2 separate regions of the Homo sapiens genome follow, and region 2 is linked to region 1. Evidence: fine-mapped expression QTL. A gene starts in region 1. The other region holds a variant in brackets. All regions are shown on one strand. Distances are between the middles of the regions. Region 1 holds the start of HFE (homeostatic iron regulator). Region 2 holds the start of H1-6 (H1.6 linker histone, cluster member).

Evidence for each region. PIP is the estimated chance that this variant, and not a neighbour inherited with it, causes the effect. A credible set is the group of variants that fine-mapping cannot tell apart.
Region 2: its variant is the best candidate, but not a certain one, in a credible set for the expression of HFE in whole blood (TOPMed, PIP 0.50).

What each region holds. Positions count from the first base shown.
Region 1 is chr6:26,085,772-26,088,684 of GRCh38, forward strand. HFE (homeostatic iron regulator) reads left to right here and starts at 1,658. Exons shown (of 6, transcript NM_000410.4): 1 at 1,658-1,745. The coding sequence starts at 1,670. It also overlaps HFE-AS1.
Region 2 is chr6:26,107,630-26,110,542 of GRCh38, forward strand. It overlaps H1-6 (H1.6 linker histone, cluster member), which reads right to left and starts at 506. Exons shown (of 1, transcript NM_005323.4): 1 at 1-506. The coding sequence starts at 464. The variant T/C (reference allele first, on the strand shown) is at 1,411.

The DNA of each region.
Region 1 (2,913 bases):
AGCGTGAGCCACTGAGCCGGGCCAATTTTTGCATTTTACATAGATGAATTATATGGTATGCTAATTATATCTTACCAAAAATTGAAAAAAAGGAATAGTACTATCAGCCCCAATGTGCCCATCATCAATATTCTACATGTTTCCAATGTTATTGTATCTGTTTGCCTACAGTCGAGGCCCTGATATCCTGTTTGATTTTCTTGAATTGCCAAAATTTGCATACATGCTTACAAAAATAATGCCTGTTGAATTTGCTAGATATGTAAAGGTTTGGAGCAAATCAGGTGTATTAAATTTATTAATATTGTTTGAAATGTCTAAGGCAATAATTCCCAAACTTCGTTGAGGGAGAAGGAAAGCTTTTAAAATCCCATTGCCCAGGTGGCATCCCATACTGTTACTGGGAATTATGCATTGGGATGGATCCTTTAACCGAGGAGATTATTATAGCCGGAGCTCTGAACCAGCAATCTCAGTTCTTGTGATAGTGAGCAAAGAACTACAAACTAACACCAAAATGCAAGCTTAAAGCAAAGTTTATTGAAGCACAATAATACACTCTGAGGGACAGCGGGCTTATTTCTGCGAAGTGAACTCAGCACTTCTTTACAGAGCTCAAGGTGCTTTTATGGGGTTTGTGGGGAGGAGTTGAGGTTTGGGCTGTATCTGAGTGACAGGATGATGTTATTTGATTGAAGTGTATAGCTATACAATCTAAAATTAAACTGTGCATGGTCTTACCTATAATTTGTTAAGAAAAGCCTCCCAGGGATGGGGGGGCAAAACTGTATGTAAATTCTATTATAATGATGGCATGATGAACTTGGGGTGAACTTGAAGACAGGCTTTTGTGTTGTTGGGCATGTGCCACCTTAGGGAATTTCCACCTGTACCCTCCTTTCTCTTTCTCCAGGATATTTTGGCCACAGACTTTATCATAAACTCCATCCCTTAGGGTGGCATTAGGGTAGTCTTGGGCCTGAATTTAGGTGGGCCAGTGGCTGTCTTAGTGACAGCCTTTCCGCTCTCTTCTGTCATCCCCTCCCAACTGCTAATGTCTAACTACCTAACAATTACCCATTAAATCAGTGTGTCTGGGGTTAGGAGCAGGCCTCAATATGTTTAATCATTCTCCAGATAATCCCAATACTGTAAAGTTTGTGAAACACTTGTCAGATAATTCAATTATGAAGGCTGTGGAAGGTGTTTCAGTAGGATCTAATTGGTTAATGTTATGACTTAATTAATTTGAATCAAAAAACAAAATGAAAAAGCTTTATATTTCTAAGTCAAATAAGACATAAGTTGGTCTAAGGTTGAGATAAAATTTTTAAATGTATGATTGAATTTTGAAAATCATAAATATTTAAATATCTAAAGTTCAGATCAGAACATTGCGAAGCTACTTTCCCCAATCAACAACACCCCTTCAGGATTTAAAAACCAAGGGGGACACTGGATCACCTAGTGTTTCACAAGCAGGTACCTTCTGCTGTAGGAGAGAGAGAACTAAAGTTCTGAAAGACCTGTTGCTTTTCACCAGGAAGTTTTACTGGGCATCTCCTGAGCCTAGGCAATAGCTGTAGGGTGACTTCTGGAGCCATCCCCGTTTCCCCGCCCCCCAAAAGAAGCGGAGATTTAACGGGGACGTGCGGCCAGAGCTGGGGAAATGGGCCCGCGAGCCAGGCCGGCGCTTCTCCTCCTGATGCTTTTGCAGACCGCGGTCCTGCAGGGGCGCTTGCTGCGTGAGTCCGAGGGCTGCGGGCGAACTAGGGGCGCGGCGGGGGTGGAAAAATCGAAACTAGCTTTTTCTTTGCGCTTGGGAGTTTGCTAACTTTGGAGGACCTGCTCAACCCTATCCGCAAGCCCCTCTCCCTACTTTCTGCGTCCAGACCCCGTGAGGGAGTGCCTACCACTGAACTGCAGATAGGGGTCCCTCGCCCCAGGACCTGCCCCCTCCCCCGGCTGTCCCGGCTCTGCGGAGTGACTTTTGGAACCGCCCACTCCCTTCCCCCAACTAGAATGCTTTTAAATAAATCTCGTAGTTCCTCACTTGAGCTGAGCTAAGCCTGGGGCTCCTTGAACCTGGAACTCGGGTTTATTTCCAATGTCAGCTGTGCAGTTTTTTCCCCAGTCATCTCCAAACAGGAAGTTCTTCCCTGAGTGCTTGCCGAGAAGGCTGAGCAAACCCACAGCAGGATCCGCACGGGGTTTCCACCTCAGAACGAATGCGTTGGGCGGTGGGGGCGCGAAAGAGTGGCGTTGGGGATCTGAATTCTTCACCATTCCACCCACTTTTGGTGAGACCTGGGGTGGAGGTCTCTAGGGTGGGAGGCTCCTGAGAGAGGCCTACCTCGGGCCTTTCCCCACTCTTGGCAATTGTTCTTTTGCCTGGAAAATTAAGTATATGTTAGTTTTGAACGTTTGAACTGAACAATTCTCTTTTCGGCTAGGCTTTATTGATTTGCAATGTGCTGTGTAATTAAGAGGCCTCTCTACAAAGTACTGATAATGAACATGTAAGCAATGCACTCACTTCTAAGTTACATTCATATCTGATCTTATTTGATTTTCACTAGGCATAGGGAGGTAGGAGCTAATAATACGTTTATTTTACTAGAAGTTAACTGGAATTCAGATTATATAACTCTTTTCAGGTTACAAAGAACATAAATAATCTGGTTTTCTGATGTTATTTCAAGTACTACAGCTGCTTCTAATCTTAGTTGACAGTGATTTTGCCCTGTAGTGTAGCACAGTGTTCTGTGGGTCACACGCCGGCCTCAGCACAGCACTTTGAGTTTTGGTACTACGTGTATCCACATTTTACACATGACAAGAATGAGGCATGGCACGGCCTGCTTCCTGGCAAATTTATTCAATGGTACACTGGGCTTTGGTGGCAGAGCTCAT
Region 2 (2,913 bases), 22 kb after region 1:
TTCTTGGCTCTCTTATTGGTTTTAGCAGTCTTTGGTGACTTGGAGTCCCTGGATAAAACCAGCTTCTTGGTCTTGGCAGAAACTGACTTTTTAGCCTTGCTTCTGGTAGATTTAGGAATCACCTTCTTACTAAGCTTAAAGGAACCGGAAGCACCAGTACCCCTGGTTTGCACCAGGATTCCCTTGTTCACTAAGCTCTTGAGGGACAGTTTGATGCGGCTGTTATTCTTCTCTACGTCGTAGCCAGCAGCGGCCAATGCCTTCTTGAGCGCAACCAAAGACATACCTACTCGTTCCTGTGACACTGAAAGGGCCTCGGTGATCAACTTGGACACAGAGAGGTTCGGCACTTTGCGACTTGCACTTATCAAGCCAGCCGGCTTCCTCCCTCGCTTCTTGGTTGGAAGTTTCTCCATAGCGGCTACACCAGCACTGGCAGAAGCTGCAGGCACGGTTTCAGACATAACAACAGAGAAACGCAAGATGTAATAACCAGCGAAAAGCATGAAACACCCGGGCGGCCTCGGGGCCTTATATAGGGTAGGGCGCGCTGTGATTGGTGCATCACCTAGGCACCGCCCCCGCCCCTTGGAGGAGGAGTATTTGTGTTTGTTTTACCCGGAAAAGTTGAGTATAACAAAACCCCTCTTTACAGAATCTCCCAGGGTCTAGTGCTGAATAATCTGCGGAAATTCATATTTGACATGACTTTTCTCTTTTTAATGAAAAATGACCCTGGATGCCAAAACTATTCGAGAAAGCCCTCGATTTTCAATCAAATTCACGGAGAGGAACAAAACTTCCCCTTTTCCTTGTAAATTAATAAGTAATCTTTGGCAGAAGACTTATTTCATCTCTTCAGAGTGGTCTTCCAAATGGATAGCTTCAAATCGGTAGAGGAAAGAAATTATTCACGCCATGATTTTTATTTAAAATTATTTATATATGTGAGGGAAGTAACACAGATCTCTTAGCTGTCTAATTGCGGAGTCAGAAGATGCTTATAGAATTGTCAAAAGACTGCAGAGGATGTCTTTATTTAGGCATGTGCAATCTAATAAATCATAATCCACAGGAACATGGGTTGTCTGTAATTAAAGGTGCTCCCAAGTCCCTGTAGCTTTATAGAGGACTCTCAAGGATGGGGTAATATCAAGATCTCACACATTATGTAAGATTGGCCATAATCAGGCCACTCTCATGACCGGTGTCCTCAACTGAGTTTTGCTTCTGGTTTCATTAATTGAAGTCCCCTCTATCCCCCTGCCCACCCCTACATCCCCAGATAAACAGACACAGTCCCTCCCCTAAATTAACTATAAAACATGAGGTAGGAACCCTAGACTCAAGAACCTACTAGAAACTACAGACCCCATGTCTAACAAGACTGGGCGGGTTGGCTGGGCGCAG[T/C]GATTCATGCCTGTAATTACAGCACTTCGGAAGGCTGGAGGCCAGGAGTTCAAGACTAGGTTGGCCTGGTCCCTACTGAAAAAAAAAAAAATTAGCTGGGTGTGGTGGCACATGCCTGCAGTCCCAGCTTCTGGGTAGACTGAAGAGGATCACTTAGAGCCCAGGAGCTTGAGGTCGCAGCTACTGCACTCCAGCCTGGGCAGACCCTCATCTCTGAATTGCTTAATTAATTAACTGAGCTGGCAGATTTGGCTGCATAGCTGTGGGGAAAGGGTTGTTGGAATAATGTCCAGTGTGCTCCCCTGAGCTTCTACTGGAACAGGTCTTTGTGAGAGGCCTGGAGATAAGAGCTTGCTCACAAAGGCTGAGGCCTTTCTGGGATGCTGAATGAGTTTAGTGTGGCCAGAGCATAGGGTCTCAGCAAAGGAAAACTCCATAAGGGCCATTTGTGAAGATCCCCAAATACTTGTGTGAAACATTTGGTAGATATTAGAAGTTTTGTTTTGGTTTGGTTTGAGACAGAGTTTTGCTCTTGTTGCCCAGGCTGGAGTGCAATGGTGTGATCTTGGCTCAGTGCAACCTCCACCTCCCAGGTTCAGGCAATTCTCCTGCCTCAGCCTCCCAATTAGCTGGGATTATAGGCGCCCACCACCATGCCTGGCTAATTTTTTGTATTTTTAGTAGAGATGGGGTTTCATCATGTTGGCCAGGCTAGTCTCGAACTCCCCACCTCAAGTGATCTGCCCGCCTCTGCCTCCAAAGTGCTGGGAATACATGCGTGAGCCGCCGCGCCCGGCAGACATTGGAAGTTTTTAAGCAGAGAATTTGTTGTATTGTTGTAGTTGTCTTGGGTTTAGATTTATTGCATAAACAATCATTTTTGAGAAGGGCCCACAGTCAGAAGTTGGGAGTCTGTTGCAATAGTCTCAGAAGAATGGCAAAGACCTTGCCTAAGGGGACAGTGTGGTAAAGGAGAGAGTCTACATTTGAAATATTTCTGAAACAAAAGCCAAAAGATAAGACTTCAAACTTCTGATTGCAAAGTGAGATAGAAAAGTTTCTTTCTCTCTGTCTCTCTGTTATACCCATACACACACACATATGCACAAACACCTGAAAGAAAAAAAAATTCAGGGAACAGGCCAGGTAGGGTGGCTCATGCCTATAATCCCATAAATTTGGGAGGCTGAGGCTAGTGGATCACTAGAGCCCAGGAGTTCACAAGGCCAGCCTAAGCACATAGCAAGACCCTGTCTCTACAATTAAAAAATTACCCGGGTGTGGTGGCACGTACCTGTGGTCCCAGTTACTCAAAAGGCTGAGGTGGGAGAATCACTTGGGCCCAGGAGGTCAAGGCTGCAGTGAGCATGATTGTGCCACTGCACTTCAGCCTGGGCAAGAGCGAGACCCTGTCTCAAAAAAAAAAAATTTTTTTTTTTTTTCCAGAAAACAATACTATCTTAAGCACCAGCACTTTAGTATATTCTACTGTGGACTAGTTCA